3 linked regions of the Homo sapiens genome follow. The protein of the gene in region 3 interacts with the protein of the main gene of each other region in a pairwise test. Each region holds a gene or a part of one and is shown on either strand. Other genes may lie near its edges.

Region 1 (7,127 bases), on a different chromosome or scaffold from region 3:
AGGGCAGCCTCTCGAGCCATCAATGCTGCTGGCCCAGCCTTGGCCTCTGTGGCCCGTGTTAGAGATGACTTGTGACACACGGGCAGAACTCATATTTAATCCCGGATCTGACTGACTCCAGAAGTTGTACTTCCAACAGCTGGAACGAAGTGACCTCCTCTGCTTTCCCTGTCCCCACCAGGTGTAACACCACCCTGTGCCGTGGACATCGCATCTTAGGAATGAGGAAGCAAATTTGGAAAAGTAAATGACCTACATCAGACAGCATGGTCACGAAGTGCGGTTAAATTCCCACATGCAACTCCAAGCCCCAAGCACCCTCCACTCCACCAGCATCTGGCTTCAGGAGCCCCTCAGCTCCCACCGAAGGCCACACGCCGGGTGGATCTGTTCTCTGCACAGCCATAGCAACTCTCGGATACAGCTCCCAGCCAGGGCTCTGAGGCTGAAGCCCTATAATGTGTGGCACAGCATGGCTTTGCCACTGGGTGCCCAGGTGGACAAGTCCAGAGGACCAAGCAAAGCGTCTCAGGCTCAGAAACATCAGGCCCACATCTGCTGCCAAGGAAGTGAATTTAACTCCCAAACTGAGGTTGCAGGCGGAAATGTCCAGCGAGCTCAAACAGCTACACATAAAACAGGGAAGCGTGAAGGCTGCCAGGTGACGGGGGAGCCAGCCAACAACGGACAACTAAAAAATTAAACAAAAATCAACGTGCAGGCCAAACCAAACCAGTCTGCAGCCTGTGTGAAGCTGAAACCCTACGGCAGAGTTTCTGAACACTGGCAGGCTCCTGACATTTGGGGCCAGCTCGTTCTTGCATGGGGGCCGTCCTCTGCACCATAGGACCCTTAGCAGCAGTGTCCCTGATTTCTACACATTAAAGCCCAAAAGCATCCCCTCCCCCCTCCAGTTGCAACAACTAGAAATGTCTTCAAACATTGTCAAATGGACCCTGGCGGCAAAATCACCCTCAGTGGAGAACCACTGGCTCCAGCCCAGGGAGTGGAGAGTGTGCGCTACCTTGCCAAGCACCTTGGAAAGTGTGCTGATTTGAATCATTCAATGTTCAAATGATTAACCATCCCCATTAAAGAGAGTCCTAACAGTGTGTCCTGTGCCTTGTGATTTTCCACTGGACAGGACTGCAGGGGGCAGGGACTGACCGGTCATGTGTGCAGAAGCTGCTGCTGTAGCGAGTGTCTTTGGCATACTTGATCACCAGGCACTTGTACTGAGCAATCTGGAAGCGACGGACGCGTCTCATCAACTCTGTGCTGCAAGAGGAGAGAGGGTCAGGTGAGGTCCACGGCGGGAGGAGTGGGAGAAGGAGACCCCTCCCCAACAAGCCTGGCTCCTCATTGTCCCTAGTGGTATGCAGACTGAGCCCACCACAGCCAGAAAAGAGCAGGGCAGAGCAGGCAGGGTATAATATCCCTACAAAGAGGGTTGGAAGTCAGAATTCTCTATGGGGAAGAGGTCCAGGAATGGTACTCAGGTGGTCCCAGGAAGTGTGGGAGGAGTAACCTTCTCCAAGATGTAGTGGGGAAGGCAGAAGCAAAGGCTACATGTAGAGGGAACCTGCGACTGCATTCCAAAGTAACCTCATCCCAGAGTTGTTCCCAGAGTTCAGAGTTTTTCTTTCTTTCTTTTTGGGGTGGAGTCTCGCTCTGTTGCCTAGGTTAGAGTGCAGTGGAGCGATCTCAGCTCACTGCAACCCCTGCCTTCCGGGTTCAAGAGATTCTCCTGCCTCAACCTCCCGAGTAGCTGGGATTACAGGAGGCTGCCACCATGCCCAGATAATTTTTGGTTTTTTTTTTCAGTAGAGATGGGGTTTTACCACGTTGACCAGGGTGGTCTCAAACTCCTAACCTCAAGTGATCAACGCACCTCAGCCTTCCAAAGCGCTGGGATTAAAGGCGTGGGCCACCACACCTGGCATACAGCTTTTCTAAATTAATTTCAGAAAGTCTTTGTGTGCAGCGTCAAAAGCACTTGCTTCTGGGTCCAAGAAGTCCAACTCTGAGCCACATCTTCCTGAGCAAGGGGTTTGAGCTGAAGTGATCCCCAGGGCCATAAAAGAATGTTGGGGCAGGGCATGGTGGCTAACATCTGTAATCCCAGCACTTTGGGATGCTGAAGTAGGAGGATTGCTTGAGACCAGGAGTTCAAGACCAGCTTGGGCAACATAGCAAGACCCCAGCTCTATAAAAATAAAATAAAATTAGCTGGGTGGAGGCGGGGGGGTGCACGCCTGTAGTCCCAGCTACTTGGGAGGCTGAGGTGAGAGAATTGCTTGAGCCCAGGAGTTTGAGACCAGCCTGGGCAACATAGCAAGATCCTACCTCTAGAAGAACAAAAACAAAACAAAAAGAATGGTGCGTGGGTAGTTTACTCAAGAAACTCACTAGCCCCACCCGGGTCAGGGAATGGTTCTATCACCTCAGGAGAGCAGAGGCTCCACGGCTTCAGACTCCTTGGTTTAGAAAGCGACTACGTTTCCTTGGCCTTAGAAGGAAACAGCCACATTGAATAGGGGTGTACAAAAAGGCCTGGCCTACAGGGGACACAACTGGTTGCCACCTTCTCAGAGGACTTGGTGGGGAAGACAGCTAAGCTGTAAGCAGCTGTCACCAGCTCCAGGAGGGAGTGGCGTCCACACAGGACGAGGGGCTTGGCCTGGGCAGAAGAGGGCAGAGACTTCCTCCTGGACTGAATTCAAGGGAGGAGCACCCCAGGCGGGAGCTGTAGGAGGCTGTGCTGGTCCTTCTAGGGGAAGGGAAGGGGAGGGAAGGGAAGGGGAGGGGAGGGGAGGGGAGGGAAGGGGAGGGGAGGGACGGGACAAGGGGTCCCCGGAGAAGAGGAAGGAGCTCCACCCCAGCCCCGCGAAGCCATTACCTTTTTCCTGAGAACATCGGCCCGAGAATCACCTAGGAGAGAAGGTGAGGTCATTTGAGGGCCCGCCCTGCGCGGATGCCTGGACACAGGCTATCACCACGACCACCTCATCCCCAGCCACGCGCAGGGCTGGCCCCCGCACCTGGATCTGCCCCCGGGTCTTGCTGGGGGAGCCAGGCAGCACAGTGGGCAGGTTAATGCAGCTCATTGCGCCTCCGGGAAGTTCACGAACCCGAGTACTCTCCAAGGCCGTCCCGCAGTAAGCCCCTGGTTCCCGCGCCGACCGCTTTAAACCACGGCGTGCTGGCCAATCACGAGCCGGCCCCGCCGCCATGGGGCCAATCAGCGCCCGGCCGCTGACCTGGCGGGAGATTTGGCCGCAGCCCGCCCCCTCGTGGGAGGAATCCGGGACGTGCGCCCAGGGACTGGGAGGGCCTGGAAATCAGGGCGATGGACGTGGCTGATCGGGGTGGGGCCTGGTCTGAGCCCCGCCTCGGTCCGCCCACCAAGTTTAAAGGGGCGGAGCGAGGCGGGGCTCTGGCCATATAAACAGAGGGACGCACGCCCATGCGGCTGTAGACGCCATGATGGATGTGTCTGGTGTGGGTTTCCCAAGCAAGGTTCCTTGGAAGAAGATGTCTGCAGAGGTAGGTGGATTGCAGGGAGGGACTAAGGGGCTGGGGCGGAGTTAGCTCATTTATTAGATTGGAATTCCAAGAAGGAAGCTTAGAAGCCGTCTAGAGCACTCCTGTGGGCATGCAGAGCGCCTAGTGCGTGCCAGGTCCCCAGTGCTTGAGCACCATGGTGTATTTTACCTTCTCCTAAGGATTTTTGTTAACCTGGTTTTCAGGATAAAGAAAATTGAAGTCCTGACTATGCTAATAATATCCGTAGACCCTGCCAGGCGTGGCGGCTCACACCTGTAATCCTAGCACTTTTGGCGGATCACGAGGTCAGGAGTTCGAGACCAGCCTGGCCAACATGGTGAAACCCCGTTTCTACTAAAAATACAAAAATTAGCCGGGCGTGGTGATGTACCTCTGTAATCCCAGCTACTGGGGAGGCTGAGACAGGAGAATCGCTTGAACCCAGGAGGTGGAGGTTGCAGTGAGCCGAGATCATGCCATTTGTACTCCAGCCTGGAAGGCTGGGCGATAGACCAAGACTTAGTCTCAAAAAAAAAAAAAAAAAAAAAAAAAAAAATCCATAGACCCGCAGGAGGTTAGGGGACAAAGTTCTGGACCTTGATCTGAGGTTACACAATGTTTTTGGGTCTGTGCTTATGTGGCACAGGCTGAAGGATTCAGAACAGCTGGTATTTACATTGGGGTTGTGAAGGTTAGAAACATACAGGCCGGGTGCGGTGGCTCAAAAAAAAAAAGAAAGAAAGAAAAGAAACCCATTGTATAATCATGATCATAAATAATAGCAACAAAGATGGTGGTAGTGATCACAGAGTGTGCCAGGTGTGGCTGTAAGGATCCTACAGGTAATAACCTTTCCAGGTACAGATTGGACAGATCCAAGGACCTCTGACAAAGAGCTCCTTCACTGGGAGGAAGAAGCAACCCACACTGACTGGCTTGCTTTATTTTACTCGCATGCTTTATCTCTTTTAACCTTGTGATTTGGATACATGCCTTCTTTTTTTGAGACACAGTCTCGCTCAGTCACCCAGGCTGGAGTGCAGTGGCATGATCTCGGCTCACTGCAACCTCTACCTCCCGGGTTCAAGTGATTCTCCTGCCTCAGCCTCCCGAGTGGCTGGGATTACAGGCACACTGTAGCTGGTACTACATGCCTGGCTAATTTTTTTTTTTTTTCTTTTGAGACAGAGTCTCGCTCTATCGCCCAGGCTGGAGTGCAGTGGCGCGATCTGGGCTCACTGCAACCTCTTCTTCCAGGGTTCACGCCATTCTCCGGCCTCAGCCTCCTGAGTAGCTGGGACTACATGCGCCCGCAACCATGCCCGGCTAATTTTTTTGTATTTTTAGTAGAGATGGGGTTTCACTGTGTTAGCCAGGATGGTCTCCAACTCCTGACCTCATGATCCGCCCCCCTTGGCCTCCCAAAGTGCTGGGTTTACAGGCATGAGCCACTGCGCCTGGCCAATTTTTGTATTTTTAATAGAGATGGGGTTTCGCCATGTTGGACAGACTGGTCTTGAACTCCTGGCCTCAAGTGATCCACCCGCCTCGGCCTCCCAAAGTGCTGAGATTACAGGTGTGAGCCACTGTGCCGGGCCTGGATAGATACCTTCTACCAGTCAGGAAACTGAATCTCAGAGACTAAGTAACTTGTTGAGGATAAAACAGTAAGTAAGTGAGGGAGGTCAGATGGCATTTGACCTCAGGCCTTGCCATGAGGCTGCCCTGACTTCCCATTTCTCATGATGGTTTTGAGCCCTTTCTTCAAAATCTGGTTCCTTGTTACTTTTTTTTTTTTTTTTTTTTGAGATGGAGTCTCGCTGTTGTCACCCAGGCTAGAGTGCAATGGTGGGATCTCAGCTCGCTGCAACCTCCACCTCCCGAGTTCCAGCGATTCTCCTGCCTCAGCCTCCCGAGTAGCTGAGATTACGGGCGCCCGCCACCATGCCCAGCTAATTTTTGTATTTTTAGTAGAGACGGAGTTTCACCATGTTGGCCAGGATGGTCTCGAACTCCTGACCTCAGGTGATTCACCCGCCTCAGCCTCCCAAAGTGCTGGGATTACAGGTGTGAGCCACCACGCCCAGTGTTTTGTTTTTTTTTTTTTGAAACAGGGTTTTGCTCTCTCAGGCTGGAGTGCAATGGCGCAATCTTGGCTCACTACAATCTCTGCTTCCTGGGCTCAAGCGATTCTCCTGCCTTAGCCTCCCGAATAGCTAGGACTACAGGTGTCCACCACCATGCCCGGTTGATTTTTCATATTTTTCGTAGAGATAGTGTTTCGCCATATTGCCCAGACTGGTCTGGAACTCCTGGACTCAAGTGATCTGCCTATCTTGGCCTCCCAAAGTGCTGGGATTACAGGCGAGAGCCACCGTGTCCAGCATTTTCTGTTGGTTTTTTTTTTTTTTTTTTTGAGATGGGGTCTCACTCTGTCGCCCAGGCTGGAGTGCAGTAGCATGATCCCGGCTCACTGCAACCTCTGCCTCCCTGGTTCAAGCTATTCTCCTGCTTCAGCCTCCTGAGTAGCTGGGATTACAGGCGCGCGTCACCATGCCTGGTTAATTTTTGTATTTTTAGTAGAAATGGGGTTTCATCATGTTGGTCAGGCTGATCTTGAACTCCTGACCTCGTGATCCCGCCTCCGCCTCCCAAAGTGCTGGGATTACAGGCGTGAGCCACCGCGCCCAGCCTCTGTTTTTTTTTTTCTTTTTTTAATTCTCCAAACTGCCTCAGAATGGTTCCTTGTTACTTTCTGCATAAAGTGTGAAGGTGTTAGCCCGACATTCACCGCCCCTCCTCCTCCAGCCCAGCCTCCCAGCCTCACCTCTGTGTGTCAGCCATAGGGCCTGCCAGCATTTGCAAACTGACCTTTCATTCCTTCCTCCTCACCTCTGTGCCTTTGACTGTGCAGTGACCTCCTGTGGTCAGAATCGCACCCTCTCAGCGCAGATCAGCTCCTCCTTTTTTAATTTTTTTGAGGTAGAGTCTTGCTCTGTCGCTAGGCTGGAGTGCAGTGGTGCGATCTCGGCTCACTGCAACCTCCACCTCCCAGGCTTAAGCAATTCTCCTGCCTCAGCCTCCCAAGTAGCTGGGATTACAGGTGCACACCACCACGCTCGGCTAGTTTTTGTTTTCAGTAGAGATGGGGTTTTGCCATGTTGGCCAGGCTGGTCTCAAACTTCTGACTTCAAGTGATCCACCTGCCTCAGGCTCCCAAAGTGCTAGGATTACAGGCGTGAGCCACCGGGCCACCTGGCCTCCCCTGGTCGTAACTGCTGTGGGAGTGGTGCCCATGATGGCATTAACTGAATTCGTTTGGGGGACCTCATCTCCCCTTAAGGCTGCCAGCTGGCTAAAGGCACAGCGGTCGCTGGTATACCTCTAGACCATGGATCTGAGGGCATCTTGGAGACCCTGGGATACTGGGGCGAGGGCTTCTAAGGCAGAGAGGAGCAGCCGGGCATGGGCGAGGGGGAGGGGCACACTCTGTTGAGAAGGAAAGTCTTACGGAGCCTCATGTTTGTGCCCTGCAGGAGCTGGAGAATCAGTACTGTCCCAGCCGATGGGTTGTCCGACTG
Region 2 (7,000 bases), on a different chromosome or scaffold from region 3:
TACAACAATTTTTATTTCTTCTAAATATCTAGCAATACCCAATTCAATGGATTCTACTGATTAAAAGCAAGAGACATTCTATGCAACAGACCTCTCCAGACCTATTTCTAGTGGGAAGTCAGTAAGACATAGTTGGGAGTTACCAAACTTATAGCAAAGGTCCTTCTGATCTCACCACATTTTATTTTATCCCTCATGAAACTTCTCATATTGTATCTCTATTACAGTTATATGTGTAATTCTCTCACTTCCCCTACTCAAAATGCCTTTACTCAAATTATTTGAGAAAGAAATTCATTAAGCAGTGAGTGAGAGGCTGCAAGGTGGCAGACCTGTACCTGACAATGGGTATACAACAGTGGACAAGAGACTAAATCACAGCCATCACTGAGTAGAGCAGGAGACAGACATTAAACAAAGAAATTCATAAGTAATTAACTGAAAATAGTGTAATAAGGCTACAGCAGTATAGAGATTAGTAGTCCTATTTATGTTTGCATTATTCAGTAATATCTAGCTCAGGGCATCAACAAACAGTACAAAAATGAGAGTGCAAATGAATAAATAAATGGAGAATGGATGAATAAATTAAGGAATTATAAAAATTAAGAAAAAACTAATCTGTTTATTTAAGTGCAAATTATTTTAGCTTAAATTATAATGGTGTTCTGGCGGTGGGGGTCGGGGGTTGGTTCTACTATAACCAACTCCACACAATATGGGCCATAAAACCTGCCAGGTTTTCTGTGCTGTGGGCATGTTCAGAAGAATGTATGTGACTCTGTTTTTTCAGTGCTATCCTTTTGCTATCACAGGCTTCATCTATCTCTAATGTTGTGACAACACTTGTAAAGCACAGTCTCTGCTTCTTTATGTAGAAAGTCCTGGGTTTTTGTATCAGGCAGAAATTTCTATTAATTATGAGATTCTAGTATAGCTCTGCTATACCTGTCTGTATGATCCAGTGGCACTGGTGGTTCTCCAGTGACAAAGCAAAGCTGATGAGTGTTGAGTATCATTCCAATGGAAATAGTATTCTCATTGTTGGGAAGGCATAACTCAAGTGGCATATGTAATTATAATCTAGCACCCAGCAACACTTGGGGAGGTAGTGCTTAAGGAGATGGGGCAGGACAGACAGGCATGCAGTCAAACCTACCCAACCTTTTTTCATTATTTTCATCAGAGCACCTCCCTGTGAATAGATATCTTCCAGTATTTCATTCTAAGAAGAGTCTCAGGAGTAGGAATATTATGAAGAAACCTCCACACACCTCAATCTTTTGCAGAGTATTTTCCTAGTATCAATGGTTCTAGAACTCAAATATATGACATCTTGATTTGTACAGACCAGAGGGGGCTGAACTCTTCAGTTGCTTACTTTATGGCAGTGGTTTTCAAAATGTACTTTGAAGAACCCTAGCAATTCTTTCAGGGACTGCGAGGAAGGGGCCAAGAAGCAACTACTGGGGCTTCTACAAGCTCACCCACTCTACATATTGAGCAATTTGATATATTGGGCCTTCACAAATGCCTTCTGGGTAAACACTGTGGTCTGTTTATGTCTTCTCCTGAAAACTAAGCTTCTCCTGAAAACTAAAAACCTTAGTACATTCTCCTTTGCCTTCCATTATTTAAAAAAATAAAATCAGACTGCATACCATTTTCTGCCTTTGGTCTGCTTACAAGAAAGCTGCTGTAGTAGCAGAAACAGATACATTCTATGTATAATGTTTGGCATGAACAAAAATTATTTGTGACAACAATTACTTAGCTAAGCAAATAACACTTACGGTGAAATTGTGCAGCCTGAGGCATACGCATGATGTCCTGTGTAGCGAATGTCACAGCGCACAACATTGTTGGTATAGTCAGATTCAGGAACCAGGTAGCTGGGGTTTACACTGACCTGGGCAACACAAAGAGTTCCTCAGTATTTCTTTTTCCATAGGGCTACAATAAGGAAATTGTTAATGAGGACTTAGCTAAATCAAGCAGGGAAGGGATTTTAACTTAAGTAAGTGGTTAAACTCTGGAGACGTTATGGAAAGAGACTGCATATTTTCCCCTGAAGTTCTTTAAAATAAGACAGATTAGATTAGATTAGATTGTTTATAAATAGTTTGAGGATGTATAATTGCTTCCAATACCATGATTATTTAACATTTGAATCCAGAGAAGAGGGCCTATTGATCTGCAATATCAATATATGATATATTTTCAAAGGTCTTTACCTTTAGGATATAGTTTCCAGGTTTTACATCTGTAATATCAATCCACTGGCAGTCTATGTCTGCACCATAGGTATCATAACAGCCAGGACTCAATCCCTAAGATAAACAAAATAAAAAATTTAAAATTATGGTATGTGGTCAGACTATGATAAATAATATGCTATTATTTGCAAATTAAATTTTAAGTTAGTACTTACAAGAGTCTGACATAAAACTATACTTATATTTCATCTCCCTTGAGAAGTATTTATTACTCAGCCTTATAGCACCTCCAGCTAAAAAAGATACAGGACTAATATAAGTAGTAGTACACCTCACTTCTTAAAAGTGTCATATATCACCAGAGATAAATGCAATCTGAAGGAACAAAATAGGCCTCTACCAAAGTTCTAGAATTTTAACAGTTCAGGAATAAAGGCCACATAATAATTATCTTAGCTCAAATGTCCTCTTCTCAGTGAAATCCTCCCCAGTTTCCCCTTTTGGAAATTACCTTCTTGTGCTTTGAACGTCCATGATACTTTTTATTGTGGATAGCTTTTACAGTGTTTATCCCTTTTTGCTCTGCATTATAACATGCTATGTAAGAATATAGCTAACCAGAGGCTGCAAGTTCCCTAAGGGTAGAGTTTACGTTGTATCTTTGAATAACTAACATTTATTAAATAGTATGTGGCAGGAACAATCGTAAACATTTATATGTGTGTGTGTGTGTGTGTGTGTGTGTATAAAAATTCAATTTTCACAACTACATGAGGGGCTATTATCTCCATTTTATAGATGAGAAAACTAAGGCACACTAAGATCAAATAACTTACCCAAGGGTATCCAGCCTAGTAAGTGGCTAAGCTGGTTTTGAGTTTAGGTAATCAAGGTCCAGAGTCCCTGTTCTTAACTACCCCACTATACTCTCTCTCATACAGTCACTGAAATATGACATATTTTGTTGAAGGGGTAAATGCATGACTAAATTGATGAATGCCACATCACTCCACTTGCTAAAATATTCACATCAATAAGTAAATGAATGCCTTCTACAGGCTGGGAGGAGAAAAATATAACAAATACAATCCTTGCTTTTAAGAATGTTATAGTCTAGAGAAGTTTCCTCAGATTGGAGTCTGTAGGTATATTCTTGATTCCATTAGTTCTTCACAAAAAGTTTTAACTTGTATTTTTATTCTAATAGTAATTTAAATTCAAAGTACATGCTAGATTCATTTTAACTCAATACTGCCATTCAATTCTAGCAACCAATATTGCTTTGCTGTTTAAGATCACTTTGGTCACCCAAGAGACAGTAAAATCACCTTAGCATGCTCTACCAATGCTGGTTTAGCTGTAGCTTGATTTGGGAAGAGCAGGGGAGAATTGTGCTGTCATAGAGCACACAATAGCACAGACAGGCCCAACTCAGAAGGGTCAGTGTCACAGCAGTGAGACTCATATTCTGTTGTTATTATCTAGATTCCTACCTTGATCCATACATCACTTAACAGTATGTTGAGTAGTAAATATAAAATGAAGAATTTTTGGTCTGATTCCAGCATACAATTCTGATTCTGGCATATAATACATACTCAATAAGTGCTAGTTATTACTTCTACTACTACCACAATGTTCATGACATTGTAAAGGATTCACTGGATTAGATATTCATTTAAGATGGGTTTACATAATGCTTCAGTGCTTATCTTGCCTTCAAATAGACAAAAGAGCCTTAAAAATGCTGAAATTGGCACTCGAGTTCATAAGCTGGCAGAACTTAAGTATAAGCTTTGATTATTTGCACAAGCAAGCAAAAACGAGTTACTAAGGCAAATAGGCATTTCATGTAGGCAAAGTCAAAATATAAAAACAGATTCAATGTTGAATGTTAGCTGAGGCTCTCTAAATCAGCAATTTGAGTTTTAGCAATACATACTATTTGTTACATTAAATTAATAAGGTGAATTCAACTGTTTTAGTTTCGTATATATTTAATATGTAAATTTTTGTCTCAGAACACAAGAGTTATTAATATGTAAAAGTATAAATCTAAAGAAGTTATACCTAGTTTTATGCTTGAATACATTTAAGCAGCATTACAATAAACTAATCTGAGTCATCATTAGGTGATTGAGAGACTATTTTTTCCTTTAAATGAAGTCCATGTGAAAGAGACATTGATCTAATGAAAAAAACAAATATATAAATCGCTCAATGCAAGATTTGGTGAATAATGGTTAAAAAGAACATATATGGAAGATGATTAACAAGAAAGCTACCATATAAAATGAAATGGGGTCACCCCAAAGAAGGGGGGGAACCAGAAGTGCTATAATGTCTACAATCCCAGCTTCAAATATTTCAGAGTGAGCTGTCCAGAGTGCCTCTTTTTGTAAATGGGGCAAATAAACTCTAGGTCCCTTGCACAGGACTTGCAGATCACTGAAAAGGGAATCTGTATATGCACACATGAATAATGTGTGGGTAAGTTACATCTCCTCTTTCTTAAGTAAGTACTGTCCTGGGGCATGTAGAAGTTAACCTTTCCCCCTCCAATTGCTATGATGTTCTAAGCTCAGAGAAAAAAGCAATGGTAACATTTAGGTCACCAAACAGCTTCCTGCCACAGCCCTGGAATTTGCTTCCCAAGATGCCAACTGCTGATCCCTTCATACCCTCAGTTATGTACATTCACTACCCCTTGCCAAGATCTGGGCGGGAGTCAAATTATAATGTCCTTTTACAAATTAGGGTTTCATATGGAAATACTGACATAGATTTTAACTGACACGCATTTTCCAATGATAAAACATGCAAACTGCTTAGTTCAGCACTACTTTAAAAAAATCCATCCAAACAACATCTGACATCAATTATACTGTAGATTTAAATATATATGTGTGGAGAAAGAAATGGTGTCCTTCTGCTCTTATTTGCATTATTAAAAGAGGCAACTTTTTAAAGTGCTTTTAAAGAAACTTATTTTTCCTCCATTTGCTAACCGCAACCACTATTCTATTTTCAGCATAAAACAGAAGGAAGGAATGGTTTCACAGGTGAAAAAACAGAGATATCTTTTTTTACAGTTATTTACTAAGCCGGTTAAGGAATACAGAATGGGTGCATATGTTGTCAACCATTCAGACTTTTTCAGAGAGTAAATTTTTGTTCTTCATTGTGGACTGTAACAAGGACCCACACTGACCTGTGATCATGAATAGGGGCCACATGCATAACTGGAAATACTTCAAAAGTAATTTGGATCATCAAGCCATCATTTGCCTTTTCCCAATTATTTTACATCTTAACAACATGGACCTCAAATTGAATGCTTTATAAAAGAGAGGTGAGAGGAAAGAAAATACTAGACTCATGGGGTATATCATCTACAGTTTTCTTTGAGAACAGTCTCTGTATCCTTTTGATAAAAATGTGTGTGCTCTTCATGAAATGCTATTTAATGCTAACTAACGGTAGATGACCCGTTTCTCTCTGAGGCTTGAGGTTCTGGATTTCAGGGTGCCAACATACCTGTGTGTGTGCAGTACATGCAAATCGCCTGTGGTAGCCATAGTCACAGGATGTGTCTTCAAGACAGAAACTTGCTTTGTGGCCTTCAGCCACTCTCCTCTGGGTGTTGGCATCAAGCAGGTCATAGTGGCTAAACTCATCCATACTGTGGTAATGTCTGATGTCCCACAAAACAAAAAGATGGTGGTCAGTTACATACAGAGAAAGCAATGAAGATATTAAATGACTTCCCCCATGGCTTCACAAATTTGTTTTCACATTAAAATTGAGACCAAATTTATCTTCTAAAAGAGAGATTCATGCTAGGGTTTTTTTTTCCCCAGGACATAAGTCTATCAAAATTGTAAGGTTTAACTTTGCTACTAGGACAAAAGACTTAGTTCAGTATTTTGCTTTCTTATTGTACCCCATTTTGTCTTTGAATATTAAATAGAAATGGACAATAAATTATCTGTGCTTAAGTGAAACTTGCCCTGTGTTCTCTAGTGTATTCCCCTTGGCTGCCACTGCTGATGTTTCATTCCGAAAAGCAGCACATGACTTTTTCAAGGTTTCTATGAGATTTTAAAAAATTGAGTTCTCACATATTTAAAATCATTAGTGAAAAGCAAGGGAGAACTCATGGCATGTTTTATCCACCATTATTATTTAAATAGTACACACTTTTATTTAGAAATAAAATATTCCTATTTTATCAGGAAATTAAGGGACTTATATCTACTTTTGTTATTTCATTAAATGGAAGGTGCTGAGCTGTTCATCTTCCCACATAAGGAAAAAACAATGAGGACTGGCTTGGATTTCAGGAAGTAAGTTTAAGGCCACACATGAGGATTTCCTGAAAATAAACACCCAGGCAAGTTACTAAGGCAAATGATAGAATTACCTTATGCAAAAATCCTTAAATTTAGGATAGAAAAGGCAACCACCTTGGGCTTGATACAGGTCTTTTAAAAGATGGAAGAAGGTCCTTCTGAGCTGATGGGATGTATCATCTACATCTTTCTTTGAGAATGGTTTCTGAATGCTTGTGATAAAAAACGTGTGGTCTTTATGAAATGCTATTTAATGCTAACTAACTTTAGATGATCTTGGCTGTAATGGACTTTTAAAGAAATCCTATCTGTAATGCATTGGAGTAAATTTTATTGAAGTCAATTGCTGTATCCTATCAACAGCTTTAATAAGCTGGGCTTCAGATTTTCCATTTCAAAAGATAACAGGATCTTGTAGTAGATGGGTTATGT
Region 3 (7,407 bases):
GTCATTTTAAGTGAGAGGTGAAACTGAAAGAATGTATGAGTTGGGATTTACAGAACGTTCTGGTTTTAAAGAGGCTCACAGTGCAGCAGTTTTACACTTTAACTGCAAAAGCTAAGAAAAAAGTCACAATAATGAAAACACTCTTACATTTTTGGTTTAAACAAAGAAAACTGAATAAGTATATGACACATCAAAGTCCCAACAATGCTCAGCCTTTCAAAATTTGCTTTTGAAGCTTACTACATTAGGAACCACATGATATCGGAAAGTAAACTGATCTTAATGAGTATGATTTGAAAGACATACTTCAGATATTTTTAAATTCTCAACATGAATTTGTCTTGGACTTTTAAAGTGGGTTTATTTAAATTTCTCAAAAGGAATAAAAGTTCACTAGTTAAAGTAAAATATAAGAAAAACCAGCAATATGGAATACACCTCCAATCTTCAATACATCTCTAATCTATGTCTGCAACAAATCTGACTGCCATAGAATTTTATGACAATAAAATATCAAATGATTTATGGTAGCCAGAAAAAAAAGGAAGTATTTACAAAACAAACTTATAATTTGTGGAGAAAGGCAAATCCACAATCTGACTTTAAACTCTGGGAATAAAAGACATTCATTTCTGGGCATACATTCCTAAAGGGCAAAATCTTGAGATGCAATCCTGTGATTACTGTACTTTTTAGGAATGCACATTATATTAATTAAATATACAACATCATGTCAAATGTTATGCTTTGTCACTAAAGAAAAGCCAGGCATATTTAGTTAAAGTACTTAGAACTAGATATCTAAGAACACAATTGTTTATTGTACGTATCTAAACTCCAGGTATCAGAAAAGCTCATTTTCACATTCAGCTGGAGGAAAAGTAGTATTTATTTGTTAATTAAAGGGTAAATAACATTTAAAAAGAGAAAAAGTTTTCTAACTGCTGAAAATATATCCATCGCTGTTGAGACATTAATAGTTGCAACTCTTGAATACATGTAAGTTTAATTATGCAACTGGTAGAGTTCAAACTTTCAATTAACAAACTACAAGCCTTTTCAAGCGTAGGCTCTCCGTGCAGTGACAAACACTGTGCAGAAATCAATACTCACTCCAACTTGCCTGCATATAATGAGTTACATCAAGCACGGTTTCAATGCTAACGGGCATTATATGTCAGAAATGCATGCAGTAATGCTTACTCCAGAAAGAATTCAATTAAACCATTGGATTATTTTTTGCATAGAGCTGTTACCCTCTGCGTACATCAATTATATACAGGGCTTTTCCTCTGCGTGCTGCCATTTCATAATCTCTGCCTGAATGTACGACACATGCTGCCACCTGAATCTGTTGTTTAACTCCCTTTACAGAGTTCTAAATGGGGCGGGGGTAGGAGAGCAATGGAAGGGAAATAAACGATTACTCCAGAAAACAACAATTTGAGTTTATTTCCAGGAAACAGGGCCTCCACAACAACGTGAGAAACTGTCAGGTACAAAGTAAGTTATTTGCGTCCTGCGGCTTCAGCCAGGAGCGTGGCTGTCGCTTTTCCCGTCTTCTCCATCACCCTCTGGCCACCACTGCGTCTCCATCTGCACCGCGAACCCCAGCAGCAGATGCGCTCGCCAGCCAAGCGAAGCTGGGTAGGTTGGCCAGAAAAGTTGTCAGGACTGGCGGGAGGTAGACAAGTGCTCGGGAGCCCGCTCCCCAGCGTCCACCTGGTGAAACTTCAGAGCCCCCAGAGGAGAGAACGAAAGAAGCAACCAACCTACACGAAGGATAACAAAACTGGAGGGGAACAGAGGGCGGGACCGGGAGAGCCAGGGTTCACGGACTTCTCTGAGCGGCTTGACCGAGAACCCCCAGGGCTACAGCGAGACGCTCCACTTGTCTCCTTTTGGGTTCTCCGGCAGAAGGCAGACATTTACAGTCCGCTTCCAGCCCCAGGCCGGATCCGGGGAGCGCGGGGCCAGAGCCCCAGGCCGGATCCGGGGAGCGCGGGGCCAGCCTGGCGGTGGTTTTGCCCGAGGAGCGGGCTCCCACGCGCGAGTCAGGCTTCCTCCACCAGGCGCCCAGACCTCGATGCCCATGAACGCTCAGAGTGGGTCCTTAGAACCGCATTTCAACACATCTTACAGGGCTCCGCCAACACACACACAGAACATGCTCCAAGCAGTGCCCGAGCGCACAGGGCAAGCCCGGGAGCAACCCAGAGCTGGGGGAGGAGAAAAGGGGACTCCGGGAGGGACGGGGAAGTAGTTAGACAATAGTCAGGGGAGGTTATTCCCGGGACAAAAAGCACCTGGCAAAGCGCGCCGAGGTCAGTCCCTTCGAATCTCCACATTTCTGACAATGGCTTCCCAGGGAATTTGTTTAAACACCCAAGTGGCAGACAGCAACAAACCCGCACCACAAGCAACAGAGTGCCGTCACGGGAGTCGTAACTACTTTTTCTTTCTCTCTTCCCCACTAGCCCGGCGCAGGCCACGCGAGACGCCGAAGCCAGCAGGTCCCCACACTCTCCGGCTAGACCGTGCCAGCCTGAGCCCCGAGCAAGCTTCGGAGAGGAACAATGGGTGCCCCGCGTCCCACCTGGCACGAACTCTGGGGACAGCCCTCCCTCTACCCTGTGTTCCCCACCCCCGGACAGAGAGAGCTCCCCACGATCCTTGTCCCCAGCCCTAGCGGGGACCTGGCTCACCCCTCGTGAGCCCAGGACTCCAGGCGTTCGTCGGGGACGCCCCCCGGCCACTCACCTGCGGAGAACTGGCCTTGGGCCGATCCCAGGAGAGGCCAAGGAGAGAGGAGCAAGAGCGCCACAAAAGCAGGCAGCGCCGCCGCCGCAGTCGTATCCATGCCGAGTTTGGGAGAAGTTTCAAGCAGCTTTGCAAAGAGCTGCCGGGGGGATCGCCGCGAAATCCACGACGGAGGAGCGGGCCGGGCCTCGCGGGGTGAGGACGGTGAGAGGACAGCCGCCCGCCCGCCCTTTTTCCTTCTTCGCGGTCGCCAAACTACCTCAGGGGCGAAAGCGTCGCCAGCGTCGCCGGCCGGCCGCGGCGGCAGCTCTCCATGCTCGGCGGAGGCTGCTCCTGTTAGTCAAGAGTTACTTTGCTCGGGGAGGGACGGGGGCGGAGCCGGGGGTGACGTCGCCCCGCGGGCTCCGGGCGCTTCTGAGGAATGCGGGCTCGGGCGCGGCGCCGCCACCGCCTCCTGCCGGAGAGACGCGCGCCAGCCCCGGCCGCGCGCCCCGCGCCGCCTTTGTTCGCAGCCTGGGCCCCGCCGCCAGCCGCTGCTCGGAGGGAGCGAGCGAGAAAGGGGAGCCGGCGCAGCTCGCTGCCCTGTTCCAGAACTCAGAATTTGAGAGGCGAGAGTTCGGTAAGCCGTGCGACCAGACGACCGAGGACGCGCGCAGAGAAACCCCCGCCGTCCGAGGAGAGGCGTCCTGGGGTTCCGTCCCAAGGTGGAGGTCCCCCCGAGCGGTTGCTGATTGAAAGGGGAGTGTGGAAGCGCCCTGAGGAAACACCCGCCTGCCTTGAAAACTCCCCGTTCCTTATTCTTGTAATAAGGAATAAGACACCCCACCCCCATCGAAAACTTGTCCCTTATTCATAGAATAAATAAAACTTGAACCAGAATAAACGATCAGTAACTTTCCAGCGTGAACAGCTGGCGTGTCTCCTTTCTGGTTTATTTGTCATTGGCCAAGTATTTGGATTTACTCTGCTTCACTGACTTTGCTTGTTGCTCTGAAACCCTCCGGCCCCTTTCCAGTTCTCACCTAAGAACTGCATCAGGGCTTATTATCCCTTCCTTGCACCTAGGTCTGGTGTGTGTGTGGTTTTGTTTTTTTTAATATCTAGTAGGTAGTTAAGACATAAGTATTTAACAAAAGGACTTTTACACTGACCATGAAAACAGCTTCTTCGGAATGATTCATCTGGCAGAAAATAATGCTATATTATGACAGTAAAATATTTCACAGTTAACTACTTCAGCAGCTTGAAGTGGTTTCGCCATATGCCACCCTGCCTTACTTCTGTGGTAAGACTGTATGGTGCATACTTTATTCATTTTTGTAAAATGTCACAAAAAATAGGTATGGTCACAATTGAATAACATAATAACTTTGATTCAGAATTTTTATGTGTTATGTACAATTGCTAAAACAATAGTCTGTTGATTGACATCTCTCAGTTTCTCAGACATCTTAGCCTTTGTAAATCAAGACAATGTGAAATTCATTTTAATATAACATTCACATAATTTACCAAGCCACATATTCTTTTAATCAAATATATGCTATTAATGACCAGACTTATGACAGAGCCTGTGGAAACAAAAATGTAATAAATATACACACAAATATATACATATATAAATACATATTATACACACATACATATCAGGCAGAAAAGACTTTTAAAAATTCTATGAGAATAGTAGCCTGCTCATTAGCACACTGACTAGCTCAACCCTTGTCAATTCAGTTCAGCATAGTTAAGTTCATCCTTCCTTAGGGTGCAATGTAGATTTTTTTTTTTTAACTCATTAACCTATACCTTTCAACACACCATCACCATTCCATTTCTTTAATTAGAGAACATTCCTAGATCCCAGGTAACAAAAAACTGAGGGACATATTTTTCTTTTTGAGGACAGCAGAACTTCCTAAAATTTAGCAGCAATTTTTCCCAGTAAAAACAAACAAAACCCTACTGTCTGTATACTAATTCATCTGTTCTACTCTTGTAAGAAATGTAAAAGAAGTTCATGACGTGGTAATTTGTTTGTTTAAACACACAAACAAAAAACTTCTTTAAATATTTTCACACAGTGCCAGGACAAAGTGCACACAATTCTTACCTTGCCCATTTTGGGGGACAGCTGATAGAAGATTCATTTCATGAAACTTTATTAATTTCTCTATCATGGAAGTAATAATAATAGCAGGTAATGTTTAGAAAGTTCTTCAAATGTTCTAGGCACTGTCTTAGAGTATACAATGTCACACTGAGACATCAAGATTTTCAGTGTTTCATTGAGTTCAGTCAACAATTCCGTGAAGACTTTGGTACAATTATTCCCATTTGACAAATAAGAAAACAAGGTTATAGATTAAGTAACTTACCCAAAGACACATACTTAAGTGAGAAGTGGGGGAGGCGATGCAAAGAGAAGAAAGGAAATTCTCAAAAGAAATCAGCAAACCAACACAGATGGTTTCTCACTAAAAATCAAAAGCATGCAATAAAACTTTTAGGTAAGTACATTATTCCTTTTGTGCATAACTAATGCGACCAGTATGGATTGAAATCACTTGAGTAGAAATCTGGTGGGTCTTCTACATAGCTAAGTGCGTGGCAAATATTAGGAATTAGTAGATTTTTGTTTGTTTGAAAGAATAAATGAATACATGAATCAATAGAAGTATAAATTTGGTTAAACTTTTAGGAAAAGAAATCATCAGCCTGCATTAAAAATCACTAAAATCTTCCTATTCTTTAGTCTAGAAGCTATTGCAAGTAAATAATCCAAAATATGAAAAATGTTATTTAATATGTTTATCATTTCAAAAGAGAAAGAATATAAATATTCTACAATAGGCAGATTCATAAGCATTATATGGTAGAATATCTCATAGCCACTAGAAATGAAAGTTATGAAAAAAGTAAATTGCAAGATGGAAAAATGCTTATGATCAAATGTTGGGTAAAATCATCAGAAGACAATACAGAGTTTCAGTTTAGAAAGATAAAACTGTTCTGGAGAGGGATGGTGGTAATAGTTGCCTAACAACATGAATGGACTCAATGCCACCAAATTACATACTCAATAATTGTTAAAATGATAAAGTTTATGCTATGTATATTTTACAACAATAAACAAAAACAGAAGACAAAGGTCTTTGTACTATAACCAAGAAAAAAAGAAGGCTGAAAAAAATTACAAAACATAGTATTAATATAGTTAGCAATAGATGTAGTATACTAAAATTTTATGGGAGCTCTTCTCTATTTTCCTATTGTTTTGGCCTATGGTTACATTATTTCTTTTAAAAGAGGACAGCTTTGTGTTCTGATTGCAGATCTACCACACACTAACTCCAATCATAATCTTAGATCTGCATTTGGCAAGTGTTTTCTGTAGAATCCCAGTTCTATCAGATTTAAATAAGTATAATTCAAAAATACAGCCTCAAGATTAAATTAGCTCGGAGAACTCTGGACTGAGCAAAGTTTAACAGATTTCTTCAATATAGCAAGCTTCTTTATTATAGAATCTTTCCCATGGTTTCCGATATGGTATCATGTGCTATAAGTCTATTGGAGAAGGAAAAAGAATTCATTGTTTCTCAAAGTTTTGGACCATAGAACGCTTTAATAGAGGAGTAGGTCTCAGGACCAGGGTTCCAGGGAACAGAATTTGGGAACATTGCATTAAACAACATTTAATACCACCGTATCTTAATTTCCTTTTTGTGAAAATGAAGTAATAATATTTTTATAGGATTAAATTATATATCTATCTATCTATATATATATATCTATCTATATATATAGATAGATAGATATATATATATATATACATTTTCTTTTCTTGTAGAGCTGCAGATTTGCTTGTAAGTATAGACATGAGGCCAGGCACGGTGGCTCACGCCTGTAATCCCAGCACTTTGGGAGGCTGAGGCGGGCGGATCACGAGGTCAGGAGATCAAAACCATCCTGACCAACATGGTGAAACCCTGTCTCTACTAAAAATACAAAAATTAACTGGGCATGGTGGCATGTACCTGTTGTCCCAGCTACTCGGGAGGCTGAGGCAGGAGAATCACTTGAACCCAGGAGGTGGAAGTTGCAGTGAGCCAAGATTGTGCCACTGCACTCCAGTCTGGCAACAGAGCGAGACTCCATCTCAAAAAAAAAAAAAAAAAAAGCATAGACATGAAAGGGCCTGGTTGATAACAGCTGCTAAATGTTATTTTCCTTGTCTTGTTCACTAAAGGACTATGCACAAACTTGTACTGAGCGGAAGCAAGGTTTTATTTACCCAGTGGCAGATCATGAGTGTACACACAGCATGTATTTATAAGCAATTAGATAATATTCTCAGCTTGTTAATAATAACTAACTGCTTATATTACGCTTTTTAGTTTGTAAAGCATATTCACCCACATGAATATGATGGATCATGATCTATCCTCACTCCAACTCTGTGAAGGAGGCAAGGCAGGTATGATTAATTTCACTTAACTGAGGAGGAAAATCAAAGCTTAGAGCAATTAAAATACCTGCCCAAGGTTATGCTGCTAGCTAATAGCAGGATTGTAACTCTGACCTGGGGTCTTCGGATTCTAAATCTGATTTTTTTCCAATTCCTATGTACCTAATTCTTATCTCTAAAAA

The links.
Region 1: the proteins of PTPRK (region 3) and TK1 interact in a two-hybrid assay, tested with the Homo sapiens proteins (2 studies listed by BioGRID and IntAct).
Region 2: the proteins of PTPRK (region 3) and LOX interact in binary tests that used the Homo sapiens proteins (3 or more experiments, as listed by UniProt).

What each region holds. Positions count from the first base shown.
Region 1 is NC_000017.11:78,183,888-78,191,014, forward strand, and holds the start of TK1 (thymidine kinase, cytosolic), read right to left. Parts: upstream 3,166-7,127; 5' UTR 3,108-3,165; coding exon 3,042-3,107; intron 2,932-3,041; coding exon 2,900-2,931; intron 1,279-2,899; coding exon 1,168-1,278; intron 1-1,167. Other genes in the region: AFMID (kynurenine formamidase), read left to right, coding at 3,484-3,546, 7,083-7,127. UniProt on the Homo sapiens protein: Cell-cycle-regulated enzyme of importance in nucleotide metabolism. Catalyzes the first enzymatic step in the salvage pathway converting thymidine into thymidine monophosphate.
Region 2 is NC_000005.10:122,068,260-122,075,259, forward strand, and holds part of LOX (protein-lysine 6-oxidase isoform 1 preproprotein), read right to left. Parts: intron 5,911-7,000; coding exon 5,754-5,910; intron 2,331-5,753; coding exon 2,235-2,330; intron 1,910-2,234; coding exon 1,794-1,909; intron 1-1,793. UniProt on the Homo sapiens protein: Responsible for the post-translational oxidative deamination of peptidyl lysine residues in precursors to fibrous collagen and elastin. Regulator of Ras expression. May play a role in tumor suppression. Plays a role in the aortic wall architecture.
Region 3 is NC_000006.12:128,517,499-128,524,905, forward strand, and holds the start of PTPRK (receptor-type tyrosine-protein phosphatase kappa isoform b precursor), read right to left. Parts: upstream 3,102-7,407; 5' UTR 2,861-3,101; coding exon 2,761-2,860; intron 1-2,760. UniProt on the Homo sapiens protein: Regulation of processes involving cell contact and adhesion such as growth control, tumor invasion, and metastasis. Negative regulator of EGFR signaling pathway. Forms complexes with beta-catenin and gamma-catenin/plakoglobin.